Linked DNA regions of Homo sapiens: regions 2 and 3 are each linked to region 1. The links come from fine-mapping of genetic effects on gene expression. A gene starts in region 1. Each other region holds a variant in brackets. All regions are shown on one strand. Distances are from middle to middle.

Evidence for each region. PIP is the estimated chance that this variant, and not a neighbour inherited with it, causes the effect. A credible set is the group of variants that fine-mapping cannot tell apart.
Region 2: its variant is the best candidate, but not a certain one, in a credible set for the expression of CLU in thyroid (GTEx, PIP 0.65).
Region 3: its variant is the best candidate, but not a certain one, in a credible set for the expression of CLU in skeletal muscle (GTEx, PIP 0.70).

Annotation. Positions count from the first base shown.
Region 1 is chr8:27,611,006-27,619,185 of GRCh38, reverse strand. CLU (clusterin) reads left to right here and starts at 4,486. Exons shown (of 9, transcript NM_001831.4): 1 at 4,486-4,531. RefSeq lists enhancers at 1,851-2,607, 2,898-3,398, 4,355-4,854, 8,037-8,180 and silencers at 4,243-4,332, 5,888-6,073.
Region 2 is chr8:27,719,267-27,727,446 of GRCh38, reverse strand. It overlaps a transcript of SCARA3 not described here. Among named protein-coding and RNA genes, the nearest start is that of MIR3622B, 22 kb to the right of the region's middle. RefSeq lists an enhancer at 21-260. The variant A/T (reference allele first, on the strand shown) is at 3,672.
Region 3 is chr8:28,241,211-28,249,390 of GRCh38, reverse strand. No RefSeq gene overlaps it. Among named protein-coding and RNA genes, the nearest start is that of PNOC, 72 kb to the left of the region's middle. The variant T/C (reference allele first, on the strand shown) is at 4,829.

The sequences.
Region 1 (8,180 bases):
ATGTATATACCCATTAAATAATTACAGCTTGGAAAGTGATTCTTTTTTACTAAGAATCATTTGTGATCTTTTTACTAAGATCGTTTGTGTAATGATCGAATTAGGGTAATTAGCAAATCCATCCTTTTGTTTGTTTGTTTGTTTGTTTTTGGATGGAGTCTCACTCTGTTGCCAGGCTGGAGTGCAGTGGTGCGATCTCAGCTCACTGTAACCTCCAGCTCCCGGGTTCAAGCAATTCTCCTGCCTCAGCCTCCCGAGTAGCTGGGACTGCAGGCGCGTGCCACCATGCCCAGCTAATTTTTGTATTTTTAGTAGAGACAGGGTTTCACCATGTTGGCCAGGATGGTCTCTTGACCTAGTGATCTCCCCACCTCGGCCTCCTGAAGTGTTGGGATTATAGGCGTGAGCCACTGCACCCAGCCTTTCACTAAGTTAAAAAAAATTAAAACTGACACGAGAATGGTACATATTTGTGGGGTACAATGTGATGTTTTGATACGTGCACACATTGTGTAAGGATCAAATTAGGGTAATTACCAAATCCATCTCAAACATTTCTTTGTGGTGAGAACATTGTAAGTTCTCTCTTCTACCTATGTTGAAATATACATTATTCAAAAAATAAGAGGTGCTGGTGAGGTTGTGGATAAAAGGGAAGGCTTATATACACTGTTGGTGGGAGTGTAAATTAGTTCAACCATTTTGGAAAGCAGTGTGATGATTCCTGAAAGAGCTAAAAACAGAATTAACATTTCACCCAGCAATCTCATTACTGGGTATATATAGGAATATAAATTGCTCTGCCATAACGACACATGCACTCATATGTTCATTGCAGCACTATTCTCAATAGCAGAGGCATGGAATCAACCTAAATGCCCATCAGTGGCAGACTGGATAAGGAAAATATGGTATATATACACCATGGAATACTACGGTATACACCATGGAATACTATGCAGCCATAAAAAAGAACGAGATCATGTCTTTTGCAGGAACATGGATGGAGCTGGAGGCTATTATTCTAAGTGAAGTAACACAGGAACAGAAAACAAAATTCTGCATGTTTTCACTTATAAGTGGGAGCTGAATGATGAGAACACATGGACACATAGAGGGGAGCAATAGATACTGGGACCTAAAAAAAAAGTTAAACTCTACTATGCGATAGAATACCAGAACTTATCCCTCCCATCTGACTTTAACTGTGTACTGGTTGACCAATCTCTCACCATCCTCCCTCCCTGCTCCCCTTGGAGAGTGATTCTCTTATTTTTTTCATTTTTATTTTTGAGAGACAGGGTCTCACTTTATTGCCCAGGCTGGAGTGCAGTGGTGCGATCGTAGCTCACTGCAGCCTTGACCTCCTGGGCTCAAGCGATACTCCATCTCAGCTTCCTGAGTAGCTGAGATTGCGGGCATGCACTACCATGCTTGGCTAATTTTTTAATTTTTGTAGAAACTGGGTCTTGCTATGTTGCCCTGGCTGGTCTTGAACTCCTGGACTCAAGTGATCCTCCCACCTCAGCCTCCCAAAGTGCTAGGATTACAGGTGTGAGTCACCACGCCCATCTGAGAGTGATTCTTAATCACAGGCCACAGGATACTGCTCTTGCCCATTCCTAGTTTGTTCCAGCTGTATCAGACTGCTGGCTGAGCTGTCCTGCTTGTGGTGCTGAGCCAGACAAAGGCTGGTTGGGGATGTGTAATAAGGACACTGCGTAGCGAAGCAGCCCCAGAGACATTCAGGCAGCCAGAGATGGTGCACAAAGCATAGATAAACAGATAAATGCAAGGGTCTTTACTCATCCCTCCCTGGCCCTCCCCATGGCTCTGACTCTCCAAGAAAATAAATCAAGCTAATGCCCCAAACCCAGCTGTGTAAGTCCATAATGGGAGACAGAGGATCAAACAGCAGCACCTGCCAAGAAGATGATGCATTCTCTATGAATCAGCCCAGTGACTCAGCATCTGATAAAGCTTATTTGGAGTGTTTAGGGCAAGGGAAGGGGTGGTCCTGTTCTGCTTTGTGTGCTCAGGCCCTCCGGCATTGGCTGGTCCAAGGCTCCCCACTGGCATTGGCTAGTCCAGGGCTGGGCCAAGGGTTTCAAGAGAGATGAGGTCCAGAATGTCAAAGGGCTGGGGAAAAGTCTGCAAACCACGGCAAGGCAAGGAGCTGCAAGCCTGGAGGTCACTGGGAAAAGCAGACTACGTTGCCTTCAAATATCAGAAGGGGCACTATGGGAGAGATAGGCTGGATTTTCTCTGTGTGGCTCCAGAGGGCAGAACTGGGCTCCGGATTGGCCCATACACGAGCCAGACTGTGACTCAACCAAAGAAGGCCCTAACTTTATCAACAGCTTTACTAGACAAATGGTTGCATGGCAGGTAGTGAGCTCCCTGTTATTGGTGGCATTCAAACATGGGCAGGATGACCACCGGGTGCAGATGCTGGGGATGGGGTAGGAATCAAGCAGTGTGTGAGTCCTGAACCAATCAATGTCTATGATCTGCTTAGAATATGAAACATCTGGTGATGCATTTATGGCGCTTTCAAAATTTACACTTTTCTTTCCTCAAAGTTTGACCTTCTGAACCTTGTTTGCTTAGTAGTGGGAATAATCAAGTAATTATTCCCAAGGGATCACAGTCATGACTGTGAATCTGTGAATCATGCTATTTTCTCCCAAGTCCTTTCTTCCTCTCTTCCCTTCCCCTAATTCAGCTGGCTAAGGCGGATCTCACTGACTGACCTCCAAAGTCTAATTTTTAAAAATATAACTAGATTTATGCCTTCTGTTCCGGATGCTGAGGGAGCTACAGAACAGAAAAGTTACAAGGAGCGAGCTCAAAAACAATTCTTCTAACCTCAGGTATTGATAAGGAGCAGGCACTGATAAGGAGCAGGCACTGTCCACAGAAAATGTAGCTGTTACTGATAATTAGACATTTTTTTTTTAAGAAAAATAAAGTGTAGCCTCTTCTGGGACATTTTTTTCTTCTTCTGGGTTAATGGCCTTCTAATACTTGGCTTGGCTCTAGGTTAGGTTGCAGGGAGCCGTGGAGATGATCCATTCCCGATTCCTCATCGTCCAGATGGAAGAAACTGAGGCCCAAGGGCAAAGTGATTAGTCCGAGGTCACCCAGTGTCTAGGGGCACACCTAGGACTGTAATCAGACTTTCATGGACCTGGTCTGGGTTCTCCCACTTAGTCATGGGCCTTGAAGATTCCCCGAGGCTGCCTCCTGAAAAGGACTGGGGTCCTAGTGGCCCCTGGACGTTGGGCAAGCAAGGGACTGGGCCTCCATGTTGTGCCTCCATAGTCCTGATCCTGAACTGGAAAACTCAGCCCCTGACCACGCAGCTCTCCTTTAAGCCCCTTTGTTTCACATGGTTTTCAAAGTCTGCCACCCACAGTGGGGCTGCCTGTACCCGCCCTGTCCACCCATTGCCCCAGCTGTCAGCCCCTTGACTTCTCTCCTGGGGCTTAAACATCCCTGGCTCCAAAATGGGCAGCTCACTTTCTTCCCCAAGAAGTAGCTGCACCTCCAGGGTTCCTAGATTTGCCCCTCCTTGCCAGGGGGAGGGGTGGCTGCGACAGGAGATTCTCCCTGCTCTCAGCAGAAGGAACTCCAGCAGTTGGAGACCAGCAAACCCCTCTGGACACAGATCTGATTTCCTAACTGGGAAGGCTCAGGGCAAAATAAAAATTCAGGTCCACTGGTTCAAAAACTATGAAGAATTTCAAGACCGTCACAGTAGCCCATTAAACCAAACGTGGATCTGCAAGGGTCCCACAGCCATGAAGCCCACCCTGCTTGGTTGGGTTCCAAAAAGATGGGGACAGTGATTGCTTAAGCTCTGTGGATCAAGGACCCCGGAGAGGCCTTCTGGCTCTCCACATATCTGCTCTGATCACTCCTAAACACAATTCTGTTTCCTCCAGGCCTGGCGGGTCAGTCCAGGGACCCCCATCAGTGTGATGTTTCCAGGAGTAGGCGTTTCAATACTTCCTGTGCTCTCTTCTCCAGCACAAGGCCCCTCTCCATCCCACCCTCATTATGTCTGACTCTTTACTATTTAAATGGGTCAAGAGAAGTGGCGCTTGTGTAATGTGAAGGTTAAGGTCAGTAGGGCCAGGGAACTGTGAGATTGTGTCTTGGACTGGGACAGACAGCCGGGCTAACCGCGTGAGAGGGGCTCCCAGATGGGCACGCGAGTTCAGGCTCTTCCCTACTGGAAGCGCCGAGCGGCCGCACCTCAGGGTCTCTCCTGGAGCCAGCACAGCTATTCGTGGTGATGATGCGCCCCCCGGCGCCCCCAGCCCGGTGCTGCACCGGCCCCCACCTCCCGGCTTCCAGAAAGCTCCCCTTGCTTTCCGCGGCATTCTTTGGGCGTGAGTCATGCAGGTTTGCAGCCAGCCCCAAAGGGGGTGTGTGCGCGAGCAGAGCGCTATAAATACGGCGCCTCCCAGTGCCCACAACGCGGCGTCGCCAGGAGGAGCGCGCGGGCACAGGGTGCCGCTGACCGGTGAGATGTCCCCGTCTTCCCTACCCTTGAGCAGAGCCACACCAGGACGGATGGGCGGGCAGGGGATGGCAGCCAGGCAGAGAGGGATGACACAGCTCGCAGTCACAACCCCTGCGCTTTCGACGGAGCCCAGGAAGCCAGGGAGGGGAGGTGGCCGGAGCCCCATCACCAGGCAGCTGAGCCAGGGGCCCCGGCGCAACCGCCGCCTGAGAGCACGAGCTCCAACCACAATTCTGTGGTGGGGGGGTAAATAGAACAGATATAATGATCATCCTTTCGCAAAGATGGGGAAACTGAGACCTGGAGACCTGCCGCGTTGCGGGAGACCCAGGCTAGCAGGTGACAGAGCTGGCCTGCACCGAGCTCCTTCCTGCAGCATATCCTCTGCGAAGATGCGGATCTCTCAGTTGTGGCTTTCGGCTTGCATGCATGAGTCATCTAGTTTTCTTCTAAATTCTCTAGCTCTCTGGACACTGTTGCCTGTAAGTATGAGGCTGCGGATTTCAGTATATGCTGCAACCACCGAAATCCGACTTTTTCTGCCTCCTAATGCATCTGAGGTGCATCAGAGAAAAGTCACACAAGATCCACCAGGCCTCAGACCTCTGATTCCACAGTCTCATTTTACAGATGATAATCTGAGGCCTGGAGAGGTTTAGGACTGGTGCCAACACTAAACAGCAAATAAGTATCAGAATTGGGATTCGAGCCAAAGCCTCTTGACCTTCCAGAATTTCTGGACCTAGTTAAAAAAAATATGATTTTTATTATTATTTTTTAAACGGAGAGGTTAGGAATTTAAAGGAAAGTACAGATACTATATAAAAAAAGATGCCCATGAAAATGTTAAGTTATAATAATAGTGGAGCATTGGGCACAACTGAAATGGCCAATCTTGTGAGAATGGTAAAATAAACTTAGGTCCGTGAGTAAGTGGAGTATTACATAGCCATAAAAGTATGCCCTTAAAGAATATTTGAAGATGGTGAATGTGAAGAATCTTGTATAAACTGCATGGAAGACAGAAGGAAATATACCACAGTGCTAACCTTTGCCTCTGGGTGATATGAATTACCGGTGATTATTTTTCTTATTTTCCTTTTGGTTTAGTTTTCTCCATTTGAAGAAGCAGATAGGAGCCGGGGCTTTGGGATTGAAACCCTCACCATCTGTGTGCCCTCTTCACTGTCTTCCCATCCTCCCCACGGCTCCCTGTTCACAGTCATTGATTTTCTTTCTTTCTTTTCTCTCTTTTTTTTTTTTTTTCCTGAGACCAAGTCTCACTCTGTTGCCCAGGCTGGAGTAGAGTAGCGCCATCTCGGCTCACTGCAACCTCCGCCATCCGGGTTCAAGCAGTTCTCATGCCTCAGCCTCTGAGTAGCTGGGACTACAGGCGCATGCTGCTACATCCGGCTAATTTTTGTATTTTTAGTAGAGACATGGTTTCACCACCTTGGCCAGGCTGGTCTCGAACTCCTGATCTCAAGTAATCCGCCTGTCTTGGCCTCCCAAAGTGCTGGGGTGACAGGTGTGAATCAATGCGCCCTGCCAGGTCATTGATTTTCTTAAGCCTCCAGCCCTGCCCTGCTTGGAAACGTTTTGGGAAGCTGCTCAGTTCAAAGTTCCCAGGAGGGTGTGCCTGGAGGGGAGTTGCTCCCAAAGTCTGCCTGCTCCCCCCGCCCCCCCTGCCCCCCACCCCCCGCCATCTTCTCCTCCTCCTCTTCCCCTGAGCAGCCCCTTTGTCCACAGAACCGGCCTTTTCTGGTAGAAGGAGCAAGGCCAAGTGGTTTAAGCCTTCTTAGGGAGAATGAGGCTGTGTGGTAGTGCTGGGGACTCGAGGGCCTTGGCCTTGGCATGGCTCTTCCACCCAGGGCAGCTGGCAGCCAGGCTCCCAGGAGGCAGAGGAGATGAGGGGGGAGGTGAGTCCGAGCAAAGGAAAGGAGGTCGGCTGTGCAGTCACGGTTCTAGAACATTCCTTGGATCAGCAGCATCCATATCACCTGCAGACTGGCTGGAAAAGCAGTCTCAGAACCAACATTATAACCAGCCCTGCAGTGATTCATAAGTACTTTAAAAAGTGGTCAATCATTTCAGCAAAGCAGAGCCACACAGTCCGGGGGACCACAGGTGGCCTCTGTGTGCTTGTCTCGGTTTTCCTGCCCCTCTCCAGACATGTTGATTAGACACTGCCAATGCCCAGCCTCAGACCTCAGTCTAATTTGGAAGTAGTCAGAATTTACTATGATTACATAAGACCCTCGTGTTTACAGAACACATTCCCCTCTCTGAGGTCTGGATTAGATCCATTTTACAGATGAAGAAACTGAGGCTCAGATATTTAAGTGACTTGGAATCAAGGAAAGAATACTGGACTAGGGGTCGGGAGGGCTGGGCTCTCATCCCAGGGTTACCATGAGCATGCTGTGGACTCTAGGGAGTCCCATGCCCTCTCTGGGCTTCAGCCTCACCGCTAGGGTAGAGAGGTTGGGTGAGAGAACGACCTCCTTCCCAGGTCTGAGCTGGATGGTTCACCAGGGACCCCAGGCTCCCTGGAGCAGACTCTGTGCCCGCTGCTGAGTCTGGAATTCCTTTCCTGTATCTTGCCTTTGGCTGCCCCATTCTTCATGGCCCAGCACCCTGTCTTCTGGTCAGAACCTAGTTCTGAATGGGTTTTTCCAGAAGTTGTTGCTTTCAGGGGCCCCTGGCAGAGAGGTGTTTCTGGCTGGCTTTGTCTCTCTGGCATGACAAAGGCTCTGTTCCTGCTGGAGGCATTTCAGGGCTCAGTGGGCAGCTGGGGCAGAGCCCGTGAGACCACAGCCTTCCTGGTGAGCCCGGTCTCCGCCCCCTACCCCATCTCTGGGGAAGGCGCTGACCCCATCTCTTCTCCCACGCTGCTCCCTGGCTCTTTGCGCCTGATTACTTCTCATGAGAGGCACTCCTTGTTAATGTGCTACTGAGTGTCCAGATGGGCCTGCTGGGCTGAGCGGGCTTTGGATGTGAACCATTTCAGGAAGGGGAACCCCATCGTCCTGTTGGTTCTGTGATGGCAAATGGGTGAGCTCAGATAAGCAGTTCTTGGGAGGGGCATGGTGGGGGTGGAGTGCAGGGGGAGGGGTTTCTGTTTTATGCAACAGCCTCAGCTTCTGGGAAAGGGTCCATTGTGTAAGACCGGGGCTATGGCCTGTGCCCCGTGGCTCAGGGCAGCCAGCCCAGTGGTGGCAGGAACACTGGCAGGGCAGCCTGCTGTCGGCTTAGAGGGGATGGGCAGTGTGGAGGGCCTGGCAGAGCAAGAGGACTCATCCTTCCAAAGGGACTTTCTCTGGGAAGCCTGCTCCTCGGGCCACTGCGAACCCTCTCTACTCTCCGAAGGGAATTGTCCTTCCTGGCTTCCACTACTTCCACCCCTGAATGCACAGGCAGCCCGGCCCAAGTCTCCCACTAGGGATGCAGATGGATTCGGTGTGAAGGGCTGGCTGCTGTTGCCTCCGGCTCTTGAAAGTCAAGTTCAGGTGGTGCTGAGACTCCCTGGGGGCTGCAGCGCTGTGGTGAATGGGGAGCGTCTGCTGGGGTGAAGGTTTAGGTGCACATTGCAGAGGACGTGGCTGGTCTCTGGGATGCAGTCCCTCTGTGGAGGTGGCATGGGGAGGGA
Region 2 (8,180 bases), 110 kb before region 1:
TGCAGCGAAGGACCAGCAGGTGGCAGGAGAGAGTAAACCCTGGTCTCGGCGCGCATCACGCGGAGGTTCAGCGGTCCTTGAGAAGGCTGGACACAGGAAGTGCTGCACCTCACAAAAAGCTGTGCTTCAAGGGGGGTTTCAAAGCTCTTTGCCTTTGAAATCTTAAAAATGTGGGCGGAAGGTGCCTGAATCTTCTTCTAAACCAATACTACGTGTTGATCTCAGAGGCAAACTGAGCCAGGTGCTGTGGCTCACACCTATAATCCCAGCTACTTGGGAGGCTCAGGTAGGAGGATCATTTGAGCCCAGGAGTTCGAGACCAGCCTGGGCAACATAGGGAGGGCCCATTTCATTTTAAAATAAATGCTGTCGGCTGGGCGCGGTGGCTTACGCCTGTAATCCCAACACTTTGGGATGCCGAGGTGGGGGCAGATAACTGCAGGTCAGGAGTTCAAGACCAGCCTGACCAACATGGTGAGACCTCATCTCTACTAAAAATACAAAAATTAGCCAGGTGTGATGGCACACACCTGTAATCCCAGCTGAGGCAGGAGAATTGCTTGAACCTGGGAGGCAGAGGTTGCAGTGAGGCAAGATCGCACCACTGCACTCCAGCCTGGGTGACAGAGTGAGACCGCATCTCAAAAAATAAATAAATAAATAAATACTGTCAAAGCACAATGCTCATATTTAAAATCAAATCTCTTTGGTTTCAGAATAAACTGTTTTTATTTTTTATTTTTTTTGAGACGGAGTTTTGCTCTTATTGCCCAGGCTAGAGTGCAGTGGCACAATCTCAGCTCACTGCAACCTCCACCTTCCAGTTTCAAGCAATTCTCCTGCCTCAGTCTCCCAAGTCGCTGGGATTACAGGCGCCCGCCACCAAGCCCAGCTAATTTTTTAAATATTTTTAGTAGAGACGGGGTTTCACCGCATTGGTCAGGCTGGTCTCGAACTGCTGACCTTGTGATCCACCCGCCTCGGCTTCCCAAAGTGCTGGGATCACAGGCATGAGCCACTGCGCCTGGCTGTTGTTTTTAAGAGACAATGTCTTGCTCTGTTGCCCAGGCTGGAGAGCAGTGGCGCAATCATAGCTCACTGCAGCCTTGAACTCCTGGGCTCAAACAATCCTCCCACCTCAGCCTCCTGAGTAGCTGTGACCACAGATGCACACCACTACACCCAGCTAATTTTTAAAAATTGTGTAGATGCAGGTCTTGCTATGTCACCCAGGCTGGTCTTGAACTCCTGGGCTCAAGTAATCCTCCTGCCACGGGCTCCCAAAGTGCTTCTATGTTTCCTTTGTGCATGTCATGCACAGGTTTCATAGACTCATAGCCTGTGGAGGTTGGAAGAGACTTTAAGGGTCATCTTAGCTGACCTAACTGTGACCTCTGCGACTCCCTAAACAGAAGACCTAAGCCTGGGCATGAATGCATCCAGAGACGGGAGCTCATGACTCACAGTGACTTCTACCTGCTGCTCTGTCCTCTGGAGCCACACAGTACAAGTTGAATTCATCTTTTCATGTGACAGTTTAAAAAGTTTCAAGACAGCTGTCAGCTGCCACCTGTGACTGCCCCTAAACATCCCATTCTCTGTGATCCAACGAGACAGCAGGAAAAGCAGGCATCTGCGGACAGAGGATGGCTTCTGACATCCCATGGGGCAAGACCCCCCAACTCTTCCCTGTTTGGCTTACTCCCAGGGAAGGAGCAGCTCTTGAACTGTGCATGGTCTCCAGCCATGACTCCAGCCATGAACCCAACCATGATCCCAGCTGGCCTGCACAGGAATAGGGTAGAGACAATTCTCCAAATGTAGCCTAGACACCTGACTCTGACTTACACCACCCATTAAATCCCCTGTCTTTTCTGCACTTTGTATTGATTAGATTATTCTGGTTTTTTTTTTTTTGGAGGGGGCAGTGGTTTGGACCATGGTATAGAACTTTAGATTTATTCCTTAAAATTTCTTTTTACTATATAATGTAACAAACACACAAAAGAGTGTATGAAAAGATATGTTCATTTTCAAGGATAATATAAATATAAATATAAATATAATATAAATATTATATGTTATATTTCTGAGGTTAGGAAATAGAGCAGTACTCACCCATCCTTCCTCAAAGTCCCATTTGCACCCTTTCCTAATCACATGCCTGGCTTCCCCCCAGCTCTCCTGAATTTTGTGATAATCATCTGCTTCTTCTTCATATCTTTTATCTCTGATGTGTATTTCTATAAATAATACACTGTTTAGTTCAACCTGTTTTTGTTTGTTTGTTTGTTTTAGAGACAGGGTCTTTCTCTCTTGCCCAGGCTGGAGTGCAGTGGTGCAATCACAGCTCACTGCAGTCTCAAGCTTCTAGGCTCAAGTGATCCTCCTACCTTGGCCTCCCAGAGTGTTAGGATTACAGGTGTGAGCCACCACCGATTCTTCCTATTTTGAAACTCATTCATGGAATCTTATTGTAATGTTTTTTCTATGACTTGCTACTTTCAGTCAATATTATGTTTTGATGAATTTTCTCTGTCAAAGACATCTAGTTGGAATCTGCCTATTGAGTTATTTATGGTTCTCATTATTTCCTTGAACATAATTCCTTTTACAAATATATGTACATGTTTGTAAATATTCCTTCTATATTGTCACCCCCCAAAATTTGGAAGAATGGGATAGGTCTCAGAATAGTGCCTTCAGCAAACATCCCTTCTGACTGAGGTTAATCCATTACTTAGCACTCTTTGGGCACACTTAACCAGTTTTTTGTTTGGTTTTGTTTTGAGAAGGAGTCTTGCCCTGTCGCCAGGGCTGGAGTGCAATGGTGCGATCTTGGCTCACGGCAACCTCTGCCTCCCGGGTTCAAACGGTTCTCCTGCCTCAGCCTCTCAAGTAGCTGGGATTACAGGCACCTGCCACCACACCAAGCTAATTTTTGTATTTTTAGTAGCGACAGAATTCATGTTGGCCAGGCTGATCTCGAACTCCCGACCTTGTGATCTGCCCGCCTCGGCCTCCCAAAGGGCTGGGATTACAGGCTTGAGCCACTGTGCCCGGCCACACTTGACCAGTTTTAATCCTCCTGATTTTACTTTAATCTGGACTATATTCTCCTACTTGCTCACATGGTTGTCAAAAAACAACCTTGCTTTAGAGCCAGATAAAATATATTTATGGCGTCTTCCTGATCTACCAGTCTAGCAACCCTGCCAAAAATAAAAAATAAAAAAGGAATGAGGCTTTGAGAACTTGTATTGACTCCTAGTAATTGCTGTACTATTTTCTAAATAACATAAAGCAGCCCTTTGGTTTCTATAATTTTGCCTGTGATTGATGGCAAGTCATCAAGCCGAGAGTTGTGGGAATTCACTGTTGACCTCTGGAAAATAAGAACTACCCTTTCCAGGCCAGGTGCAGTGGCTTGCGCCTATAATCCCAGCACTTCGAGAGGCTGAGGCGGGTGGATCACTTGAGGCTATGTGTTCGAGACCAGCCTGGCCAACGTGGTGAAACCCTGTCTCTACTAAAAATACAAAAATTAGCTCGGCATGGTGGCACGTGCCTGTACTCCCAGCTACTCGGGAGGCTGAGGTCGGAGACTCGTTTGAACCTAGGAGGCAGAGGTTGCAGTGAGCTGAGATCGCACCGTTGCACTCCAGCCTGGG[A/T]GACAGAGCGAGACTCTGTCTCTGAAACAAACAACAAAAAGAACTGCACTTTTTGATACCTAGTCTTGCTTTCCATGGTTGCTCAAAGTTCACAAATAACACTTGAGAAATCTCCACTGACAAGTTTTCAGTACCTGGGGTGTCCGTCATCTGGGCCAGGAAGCTAGGAGTTGGAGAGGACAAGAGGTATTTTTAGTACAGAGAAGGGATCGACTGGGACAAAGCTCTTAATGATTGGCTTCCAGAACGTGGTAGATGAAGTAATTTGTAAGAAATCAGCAGTCGGAGTGAGATTAAGACTCTAAGGATGAAGGGGAAAGATTGAGACAGTCAGTGCGTGACGAAAAGCTCACTCTTACAAGAAATGAATCAGAAGGTTGCCAAAAGGAAGTGGTAGAGTTAGAACAATTTTGTAGTCGGTCCATTTAGCATGGAATGATAACTTTCTCCACCTGCCAATTCGGAGCCAAGGAACAGGAGAGAAGAAAGAAAACAAGATAGCCCAGGGCTGTGGATGCATCAGCTCAGGGGTGAACTTCAAGGAGTTCAGGTCATTTGTGGGGCAGCATCAGAGGGGCTGAGGGGCTCCAGGCCCCGCAAGAAGGAAATCAAATATATATTTTAAAAATGTATGGACAGGTGAAAATGGGACAAGTAACGTGATTGGGGATCTGTCCAAGAGATAAGTGGGTTATGGAAGGAAAGGGAAGCCACCACCAAGTATGAGACTAAGCAGCAGATGCACAGCGTGGTTGATGTTGGGATGTATTCTGGGGAAGCAATGCTGCCTGCTGCCGAAGAGGGAGCCCAGTGTGCTGGTGGGAGGGAGAGATGGGTTCAGGTGGGGCGGCCATATCACCTGAAGTCAGGGACAAGTGGACCTGGTGCCGGGGTCACTAGGAGAAAAGGGATACCCTGTTGGAGAAAGTAACAGGACCAGATGGTGTGACCTTCAGTGTCAATGGTGGGTAACAGTCTGGGGAAGCAGCAGAAAACAAGGCGTGGTTTCCTACTTGGCCATACAATGTTATGGTGAGGGGAGATGGATAGGAGAAAGCTGCTTTGGTTAAGGAGAAAGGCTAAGGAGAAAAAGGCTTGAAAATGAATGGAAATTTGCAGTGATAAGGCTGGGGATAGTAGGGCTTTCTGACAGCAGCTCAAGAGCCATTAGAGAATGGGTCTGAGGCCAATGGCCAGGGGCAGAGCACAGCAGAGAACTGTGGGTGGCTTTTGGAGAAGACATGTTGTGGATACTATGGATGGAGGCACGAGGGTTTGGAGGTCTGTGTGAGGGCCAGGGGTGATCTTGTTGAAGCCTCACAATCATTCTATGGGGTGAATCTGACCTCTTTTTTTATAGATGCAGAAGCCCAGAGTAGCTGTGAACATGAACCATGAGCTCTCTGTGGGCAAGGCTGCCTGTGTCTTCATGCATCTTCACATCTACAGGAGTACCTGTCCCAAGTGTGGGAGTCTGTGCAAAAGGACAGTTAGTCCATTTGCACAATACTTGCAAGCTTTTCAGGAGCATGCAAAAAATGTATGAGACCTTGGAAAAATGTACTGGCTTCTAGATTCAAATAGAAACCACAATCGAATACATATTTAATTAATGTCTACAAATGTCATGCTACCATATCATCCTTACATCTAGATTTAGCATTCATAAATATTTCATTTCATTTAGAGACAGGATCTCACTCTGTTGCCTAGGCTGGGGCACAGTGATGCTATCATTAACTTACTGCAGCCTTGACCTCCCAGGCTCAAGCAATCCTCCTACTTCAGCTTCTTGAGTAGCTGGGACCACAGGCGCATGCCTCCACTCCTGGCTAATTTTTGTATTTTTTCTTTTTTGTAGCGACGGCATCTCGCTACATTGCCCAGGCTGGTCTCAAACTCCTGTTTGAGAGTTTGGCCAAGTGATCCACCTGCCTTGGCTTCCCGAGGTGCTGGGATTACAGGCAAGAGCCACTGCACCTGGCCTTATTTCATTTTAGACTTGTAAATTGGAAGTGCACTTTGATTACTGAGGAATCATGGTCATTTGTAAACTGGGTTGCTCAAAGCCAAACATCAGCATTATCCCTAAGTTAAGGGTGAGTTCCAGGGTCCTGGGTGTTCCTGGCAAGACCCCCATTCCACCTCAGTCTCACCGACACCATCTAACTTGAGGCCATTGGGATGAATCTCAATTGTCTTTTATCACTCTAAAGGCCAGAACCAACCATTTAAAAACCCTTGTTCATGGACAATAAACCAATCTTGCCTCATTCTTTTGTTCTTTATATTTCTTGCTTTATTTTTATCCATGACATTTATCTACCATACTGTATATATTTTCTATCTATTTGTTGGACTCAACCCCAAATAAGTTCCATAAGACCTGAAATGTTTGTTACTTCTCTGTCCCCAATGCCTAGAACAGTGCCCGGTTCATAGTAGGTACTCAATAATATTGGTTGAGTAAATAAAATTTTTGAAAGCAAAGTCTCTAAAAACTTCAAAATTTTACAGCAAATACAGATATATATGTATATTTATTTAATGCATAATATGAGTAAATTTTATTGCATTTGATGTGAGGTGGAATAGAGCTTCTAAAAAAGTAAGAAGCTTGGATGTTCTTAAAATGGCCTTACTCATGAAATGAGGGAGGTGGGGAGGGAGGGAGGGAAGGAGGGATGGATGGAAGGATGGATAGATGAGTAGGTGAGTAGATGGATAATAGGTGCATGAATGGATGAATTGGCAGATTGGGTGAATAGGTGGGTGAATGGATGGGTGGGTGAATGAATGGATAGATGGATGGATGGATAAATAGGTGGATGGATGAATAGATGAATGAGTGGATAATCAGGTGGATGGATGAATGGTTGGATGACTGAGTGGGTGAATGGATGGGTGAGTGGATAAATAGGTGGATGGATGGATGACTGGATGGATAAATAGAAGGCTGGACGAATGGATAGATGAATGAATGGATGGATGAATAGAGGGGTGGGTGGATAAATACGTGGATGAATGGATGGACGAGTGGATAAATAGGTGAATGGATGGATGGATGCATGGATGGATGAATGGGTGGATGAATGGATGGATGGATGGATAGCTGGATGGATGGATGGATGGATGGATGGATGGATGGATGGATGGAGATAGAAAGGACCTTAGAGATCAGCTGGAACAGAAATATACCCTAATTTGATCAGGTGGTGATGGAGACTCGACTAGAACCAGGATCCTGATTCCTAAGCCAGTACTCTTTCTGAAGCCCCACATGCATAGTGGGTGAAAGATGGGGTAAGAGTCTTAGTTAGCAGAGATGAGTTTATTATGAAACTGATGAAGCTTAAGTGGTAGGGTCACCTGACTTACACAGCCCCTTCCCAGACCAATCTCTAATTTCGTGTTTGTAATGTTACATTACTTAAGAGTCTTCTTAAAGAAAGACTCCTGCCAGAGTATATCAGCTTCAAGCTTCCCAAAATCAGGATCCACCTGATCTTGGGCAGAGACAGAATGGCCTCCCCTCGCCACTCAGACTTGCTCAGCACCCTCCTGTTTCTTACTTGCCAGAGAGGGTGAGGTATCCTTCCTCACCTAGCTTTCGAGCACCCAGCCTTGAAGCACCCCACATCTCCTATAATCTCCATAACCTCTCCAACTGCAGTTATTTTATGGGGAAAAGCCCTCATCCCTCCCCATCCTCTGACCTGGCCGTTTCCTGTTTGTCCTTGAAGACTTAGCTCCAACATCTTCAGGAAGTTCTCCCTGATCAGCTGCAGGGTGAGTCATGGGCTTTTTCTCTGTGTTCCTTGGCTTTCTGTAATTCCTGTACATTAGCACTTCTCAGAGTAAATTATAATCAATGAGTCATTCCCAGGGCTCTAGAGCTGCATCTTTTCTATTTTAGACCCCAAGACATTTTGGTGACAGAGGTCTCAAAGAAGTGAGGAGGATTGGGTCTTTAAAGACAGTTGGGAAGGGAGACAATTAGTTTGCCAATTACTACATCTGCTTCTTCAATTGCAAAAAAATCAACAGCATAGGGGAATAAATAATAGGATGTTTACCAAGCACCTCTCCTGTGTCAGAGGCAGTGTTGTTTAGTCTTTTCGACTCCTTTGCTATTGTTAGAATTGAATGGATGAGAACTCCGATACCCTGAAAACTAAGATGGCTTGGTCAAGGTCACACAGCCTAGACCTTACCTTCATTCCTTTTTTTTTTTTTTTAACTTTTATTTTGAATTCAGGAGTACAAGTGTAGGTTTGTTACATAGGTAAACTTGTCATAGAAGTTTGTTGTACAGATTATTTTATCACCCAGGTATTAAGCCATTAACCCATTAGTTATTTTTCCTGATCCTCTCCCTCCTCCCACTCTTCACCCTCTGAAAGTCCCCAGTGTGTGTTGTTCCCTTCTATGCGTCCACGTGTTCTCATTATTTAGCTCCTACTTACATGTGAGAACATGCAGTATTTGGTTTTCTGCTCCTGTGTTAGT
Region 3 (8,180 bases), 630 kb before region 1:
AAGATGGCATTCAGCTTGAAAGCTGTATTGAGCAGGTAACCTCTGGGGAAAACAGCCAACGATTTCATGCTTTGAAATCAAGCAGACTGAAGTCCATGTGCTGGATCCTACACATTTGCTTTGGGGGTTTGGTTTGGATCAGACCTCTAGGTTTTGTGGTGGATGAAGGTGAACAGGTCATGATGGGGCCACTCCCAAGCTGGGGATTTCTTGGAGGGCTCCCATTGAACTCAAAATATGTACAGATTTCCACACTTTGAGCCATAGCCCATCCATGTTTTGTTTTAATATCAGCATGCTTGTTTTGGTTTGTCTTTGTTTTTTTGTTTTTTTTGAGATGGAGTTCACTCTTGTTGCCTAGGCTGGAGTGCGATGGCACAATCTCGGCTCACTGCAACCTCCGTCTCCTGGGTTTAAGTGATTCTCCTGCCTCAGCCTCCTGAGTAGCTGTGAGTACAGGCACACACCATCACGCCTGGCTAATTTTGTATTTTTAGTAGAGATGAGGTTTCTCCATGTTGGTCAGGCTGGTCTCGAACTCCCAACCTTAGGTGATCCGCCTGCCTCTGCCTCCCAAAGTGTTGGGATTACAGGCGTGAGCCACCACACCCGGCCTATCAGCATGCTTTAAGCTGGGTGTCTGGAGTACAACTGCTCCTGTTGGCCTTTGGCTTTGTGTACATGGACTCGGAGTCGTGTATGCCCCGGCCTGAACTTCTGTCGGTTCTTGGCTTAACCTCACATCTTCCCTGAAGCCTTTGCTTCATGCCAACCCACTCCTGCCTCTCACGAGTTCCTGGGATCTCCCGCACTTCTCCTTCATAAGACAACACAGTCGTGCTGGTTTATCTTATTCTATTCTATTTTATTATTTTTTTCAGGGATTGACAGTAGATGGAAATTGTGCTGATATAATGTCTGTCTCCCTCTCTAGGAAAAGCTCCAGGGGGGTGGGAAGTTTTGTTCATCTTGATCATTCTCTGAAGGTGCCCTTTCCTAAAACAAAAGTGTTGACCTGTTTACCTTTATCTTTCTTTATTGTCTTAGGGCGTTGTCTGTCTCATTGATCTTCAGACCGCAGCATAGAGTCATCACCTCATGACCTTGTGAAAAAGGGCACAGGTGTCGTGGAAGGGGCAGGTGAGAGACTCACGTGCCTGTGCATGGGTCTCAGCTCCCCCTCTCACGAAATGGGGAACCTTGGCCAAGTCTGTTGGAGACTTAGTTTCTTTATGTGTAAAAAAGAAATATAGTCTAATGATGCTTTGGGGGATCAATGTGGGAATGAAGCAAGTTAGTAATTGTGAAGCGCGTGGTTGTTTTTGTTGTCTTGCAGCAGCCAAGGCTCACCTTCCCCCTTCTTAAGGTTTGTGGGGCTCCTCGTTTGGAGGGCATAATAGCAATATTCCTGTCCTCATCCTGCAGAGAGGCTTCACTTGCCAGAATCCAATTCCTTCTTCATCAGGGACCTCACGATCGGCCACTGTCTCTCAGCCTGTATTTTCCCCTAAGGGGTCTAATTTTCATATCCTTCAAAGATGTGAAAATTACCTCCCTACAATTTGGGGGACCCCTACATGAAGTCCTGTGTTGTCACAACCAGAGAGAACTATTTTCCCTGTGGGAGGTGTCCTAGGAGCTGCCTTGAAGACAGCACTGAGCTGGCTGGGCACGGTGGCTCATGCTTGTAATCCCAGCACTTAGGGAGGCTGAGGCAGGTGGATCCCTTGAGGTCAGGAGTTTGAGACCAGCCTGGGCAAAATGGCGAAACTGTGTCTCTACTAAAAATACAAACATTAGCTGGGCATGGTGGCGCGTGCCTGTAATCCCAGCTACTCGCAAGGCTGAGGCAGGAAAATCGCTTAACCCTGAGGGTGGAGGTTGCAGTGAGCCAAGATCATACCATTGCACTCTAGCCTGGGTGACAGAGCGAGATTCTGTCAAAAAAAAAAAAAAAAAGGAAAATCAGAAAATAGCTCTGAGCTATTAGGAGCAACTGGCTTTAGTATTCTGGCTCAGGAAGCACATGCCGGTCAATCTAGTGCTCACAGTCACCCTGTGAGCCTGGGGTCAAAATTATCTTCATTTTACAAATGAGAACACAGATTGCCCTTGTTCTTTCCAGAGGCCAGAAATCGAGAGAGCCAGGCCCTCCGCCCACAAAGCCCTGGCTCTGCACTAAACACATGGTTGATTGGAGGCGTTGGCCTGAAGCTCCCTGGGGCTCGTAAAGGTGAACTGGCCTCATTCCCAAGTTCATCTGATTGATCCACAAAAAGCATCCATGGTTTCATTCTGGACTTTTGATGCCCTGACTGATTTTTGCTGATAGCTTGCTTGGGCAGTGATTCTGCGTGGATGGCTCCTACTTCTGAAAAGCCTGGTGTTCAGGGCTGTCCCATGAACTCAGAAGGCTCCTATTGCCTTTGGGAAAGTGAGGTATGGATGGAGTGAACTGGAGTTCTCAGCCACAGTTTTCCTCACCTGTTGCAGCTTCTCTGCTGTCCAGGCCACTCTATGCACAATTGTTTCCTTCTTGGCTCAAGATGCTAGAAGATTGTATCAGTCAGGGTTCTCTAAAGAAACAACTAACAAAAGATGTACTTATCTTTCTCTCTTTTCCTCTTGCATCTATCCATCTATCATCCGTCTATTTATTCATCTATCATCTATCTCTCTACCTACCTACCTATCTACCTGCCTACATTTATTTTAAGGAACTGGCTCCCACAGTTGCGGGTGCTGGCAAGTCTGAAGCCGGCAGGGAAGATTGACAGGCTGCAATTCAGGTAAGAGTTGATGTTGCAGTCCTGAGCGTGAATTCTGCAAAACAGGCTGGCTACTCAGGTAAGGTTTCTATGCTGCAATCTTCAGGAGAACTTCTTCTTCTCTGGGAAGCCTTGGTCTTTGCACTTAAGGTCTCCAAGTGATTGAATGAGGCCCACCCACATTATGACAGGTAGTCTGCTTTACTGGAAGTTTACTGATTTAAATGTAATCACATCTAAGAAATAACGTCATGGCAACATCTAGACTGGTGTTTGGCCAAACAACTGGGCACCAGGGCCCAGCCAGGTTGACATGTCACATTAACCATCTCACAGTGAATGTGGGACTCAGCCACCCCAGTATCTGTGGCCATCGCCCATGTTGGTCCTCCTCTCCCCCTGCCGCCTGCCGAAAAATTCACTAATGTTTGGAGGACTGTTTACTTTCTCTTCTCCTTCCAGAATAATTCTGGGCACTGTCTCAGGCTTCCATGCTTTTCTTGCCACCTCTACTTGCCCACCTGTCACCTATGAGGCTCTGAGGCTGTTCTAAGTTGGACCAAGCACTCTAAGATGAATTGCTCTCTTTGCTACATCTGTTCAAACTATCTCTATGGACTTTTTTAGAAAACCTGGACCATGCAAATCATCTTCACAAAACTTGTCCAAATGCCAAGAAGGCAAGGAAAATTAGTATTCATTCAATGTTTACAATTACAGCTAATGTGTTCATAGTAGATAACATTTATGATATAGTAAAATTGTACATTCATGTGTTTATGAGTATATAATGGAACCTCTCTTTTAATTAGCATGTATAGTATACTTATGGTATATTTATGCCAATTCTTGCATATATTTTTCTTGTAAGTAATATAAGAACTGATTTATAGATGGTGATATGGTTTGGATTTGTGTCCCCACCCAAATCTCCTGTTGAATTGGAGGAGGGGCCGGGTTGTGTTACCAGATGGAAGTTCTTGACTGTGAGTTGTCCAGGTTCTTGGCGTGTTGAACAAATAATTGAACAAAATGCACAAGGCAACAAAAGAATGAAGCAAAGAAAGCACAGATTTATGAAGTGCAAGTGCACTCCACAGAGTGGGAACAGGCTGGAGCAAGCAGCTCAAGAGCCCCCGAGTTGCAGTGTTGTTTAGGGTTTGTATTAGGCTAAAAGAATTTGGTAACACTCTGAGGTGCCCTTGAAAGGCCTCCAATTGGTTACACCCTATGAAAGATTGGCCCATGAACAATCAGAGGCTGAAGTGGAAACTCCTGTCTTGTTATCATAGGAGCCAGGATGTGGCCTGTGTGCTGCCCAGTCTTGCCTGGAACTGGCTGCACCTGCTGTTCTTCCAAGTATGACTTAACCCTTGGTTACCCTAATTCTGTATTCTCCTGCCTCAGTGGGAGGTGATTGGATCATGGGAACGGATTTCCTCCTTGCTGTTCTCACGCTAGTGAGTGAGTTCTCACGAGATCCGAGCATTTAATAGTGTGTGGCTCCTCCTGCTTCGCTCTCCTGCTGCCATAGGAAGGTGTGCTTGCTACTCCTTTGCCTTCTGCCATGATTGTGAGTTTCCTGAGACCTCCTAGTCATGCTTCCTGTTCAGCCTGCAGAACTGTGAGTCAATTAAACCTCTTTTCTTTATAAATTAACCAGTCTCAGGTAGTCGTTTACAGCAGTGGGAAAATAGACTAATACAGATGGGATGTCTTTGCTTTCAGTATATTTATGATGCTGAATCAGTTTCCAGTTACAATATTATTTCCATGAGGGAACCAAAGGCTGTTTTATGACCTGCTTTTATGAAATGGTTCTCCAGAGTTCAGCCTGGCCAGTGTGAAGTTGCCTAGTGACCTTTGACCCCTGACCTTTCCCCTCCCCTCCTCCTCTTCCTGCTCAGCCGTGCCCCAGTGTTGCTGGAGGGTGGCACCCAGTTACCTCTGGTGTTAAGAGAGAAGTACAGATGTCTATTCTTAGGTCTATATCCTGAGGATCTAATTAGATCCATTAAAATGGGATGTTTGCCTTGTAAGAAGGAATTTGTGTGTGTGTA[T/C]GTGTGTCTTGAGCTAATATCCCTGCTTATTTTTGAATGAAAAATAGTCTTCAAACAAATACTGTAATTTGACTTTCCAGCAAAAGCCCCAGGTCCTGGTTTACTGATTTATTTGGAAAGTTTTCCAGTGGGAAGTGCTTGCGGCAGGGTGGGAGCTGCTGAGTCCTGGGGGTGGGGGTGGGGCGGGGGACCACTTGAGGTCAATTGATTAATGAAACAGGGGCCCACAGGGTTCTGAGGCACTGAGAGTTGGGAAATGGAGGAGTTGCTGTTGTCTGGGAGGCTTTGGAGTGGAATAAAATTGGCCTTGCATAGGCAAGGTGGTTATTGAACTGAACTGGGGTCCGCTCGCCCGGTGCAGAAAGCCCAGAAATCCCCACCGAGGTCTCAGGGATAGAAAGGAAGGTGTTTATTTGCGGGGTGCCAAGCAAGGCCGACCGGGTAGCTATTGCTCAAACCCTGACCTCCCCTGGGGCTTAATTTCAGGAAAATTCAGGGTTTAATTTCAGGAAAACAAAAGCTACAGGCAAAATCGCAAATCAATACCTGGAGTTTACACGTTGGATTTGGCCTAAATGGGTGAGATATCTTAAAGTGGGGGCTTTCCGGTCATAGGTAGAGTCAAAGATTTTCTGATATGCAATTGGTTAAGAAAGAGAAGCTTTGTTTAAAAATTTGTGGTCAGATGAAAAAAATGTTAACTGGCTCCAGATGTGACTCCCTCCAAGCCCCTCAGGAAGAAATTAGAGCAAAGAATGATGGTCAGAGTTGAGTCCTCAGTTTCCCTGTATCTGAGGTCTACATGCCAGTGGGTCCATACATACATGGGGTTCCTTGGTCGGGGGATCCAGGGACATTTGTTAAGATATATCTTAGTTTGTCTAGGGAAACCAAACATCTCTGAATTCCAACTTCCCTTGGCTATCATTTTAGGCTACTGTGATCTTCTTATAAAGTTGCATGTTTGCCTCTCTGGGCTAGTGAGCTGCCTGGAGTTTCCCTTGAAGGAACTCAGAATTTTCCTTTATTTCCATGCTTGGGGCAGTGGAGGTCGGGGCATGGGCCCTTAAAAAGGGGGTCCCTGGCTGGGCGCAGTGGCTCACACCTGTAATCCCAGCACTTTGGGAGGCCGAGGCGGGTAGATCACCAGGTCAGGAGTTTGAGACCAGCCTGGCCAAGATGGTGAAACCTCGTCTCTACTAAAAATACAAAAAGTAGCCAGGCGTGGTGGTGCGTGCCTGTAATCCCAGCTACTTGGGAGGCTGAGGCAGGAGAACCATTTGAACCCAGGACTCGGAGGTTGCAGTGAGCCGAGATCGTGTCATTGCACTCCAGCCTGGGCAACAAGAGCGAAAACTCTAAGAAAAAAAAAGGTTGGGGGGTGGGCAGTCCCTGCTGGTCTCCAGCTTAGTTTGCATGGAGAGGAGTTGGGGGAGGGAGGGCTAGAGCAGAGGCTTGAAGGTGGAAATGAGTGTGGCCAAGGGGTGAGCTGGGAAGTGAGCCCTGTGAGGTGGAGGGGGGTTGTGAGAAAGGCGGGACAAGGAGCCAGAGGCTGACCATGTGGGGAGGTGATGGTCAGACGGAAAGAGTTGGACGCAATTTCATTCCAACATCAGGGAAGAGGAGTCAGAGAAGGATCTTAGATAGCAAAGAAATAGAATGAAGTTTGTGTTTGGGAAGAATGAATCTGGATGGATTTGGGGGGCAGGGATACCCTTTATTTAAATTAGAAAAATTACTTCTGTCCCTTTCATACATATTATTGATGAAAATAGTCACACTCTGTAAAATATTTGAAGAGATTTATTCTGAGCCAAATATGAGTGACCATGGCCTGTGACACAGCCTCCAACAAGAGAAATTCTTATCCTGCATGGGGTTAGCCTCGTTCCACACTAGGAGTTTCCATCTTTCCAGTCAAAGAAAAGCCAGGAAGCCTGGATTTTGGACTCTTCTACCGTTTAGCTCTGTATTTTGTCCAAATTGTTTAGGTTTCTCTCTCTGTTTACTTCTTTTTCTTCCCCCAAGACAGGGTCTGGCTCTGTTGCCCAGGCTGGAGTACAGTGGCACAATCAGAGCTCACTGCAGCCTTGACCTCCCAGGCCCAAGCTAAGCTCCCCGAGTAGCTAGGGCCAGAGGCATGTGCCACCATGCCTGGCTAATTTTATTTTTTTTGTAGAGAATGGGTCTCACTCTGTTATCCAAGCTGGTCTTGAGCTCCTGGGCTGAAGGGATCCTCCTGCCTTAGTTTCCCAATGTGCTGGGATTGCAGTTTCCCACTGTGCTGGGATTGCAGGCATGAGCCACAGTGCTCAGCCCACTCTTCCTATCTTAACTGAAGACTGGTTAAGTTGAAAATCATATGAAAATGTGAAGACATGTAAAAGTACTAGGGACTCCATGAGTGAAGATGGTATCAATTTATCTGGGGATACACAATCCTCAAGATAAGGAAGGGAAGCTAATACACACAGTGCCTTGTATGGGTCAGGCCTTCATAAACATCCTGTCATTTAATCCAGTCTCACTGCATCCTTATTTAACCCCGGGAGGAAGGAACCACCTTTAATACGTAATGAACCTAAGGTCCAGAGGCAGAAGTCATTTCCCCAAGTCACACAGCTCACAAGTGGCAGACACAGAATCGTAGCCAAGGGTGATTTGATTCCAAGGCCAGGCTACATCCATGTTAGTACGCTGTGGGACACTTTGTTGGACATAGCTTGCTAACGGTCAAACCTTTAATGGGGGATTCAAGGTTGATGAATTAGTTTGCTTGGCTGCCATCACAAAGTACCACATACTGGATGGCTTCAACAATGGATACTTATCCTTGCACAGCTCTGGAGACCGGAAGTCCAAGGTCATGAGCCATCAGGGTTGGTTTCTCCTGAGGCCTCTCTCCTTGGCTTGGAGATGTCCGTCTCCTCCCTGTGTCCTTACATGGTTGTGCATGTCTATGTCATAATCTTCCTATAAGGACACCAGTCATATTGGATTAGGGCCTACCCTAATAACTTTATTTAACCTCAGTTACCTCTTTAAGAACCCTACGTTCAAGCACAATCCCATGCTGAGGAACTAAAGGTCAGGGCTTAAACATATGAATTTCAGGGAGACACAATTCAGCCCATAACACTAGATAAATGTAATTCCTTGCTTCAGTCAATTTTAGTTGATAAAACTGCACATTGGCTATCTAAAATGGGGGACTACTTTGTAATTGCGTACTACATTGGCTTTACAATGGCTTTTCAGATTGGAAGCACCTTCCATTTTGAGCCTCATTTAACAACGCGGTGAGGCAGATGGAAGAGATGTTATTGATCTTCCAAAGAAACCAAGGCTTAGA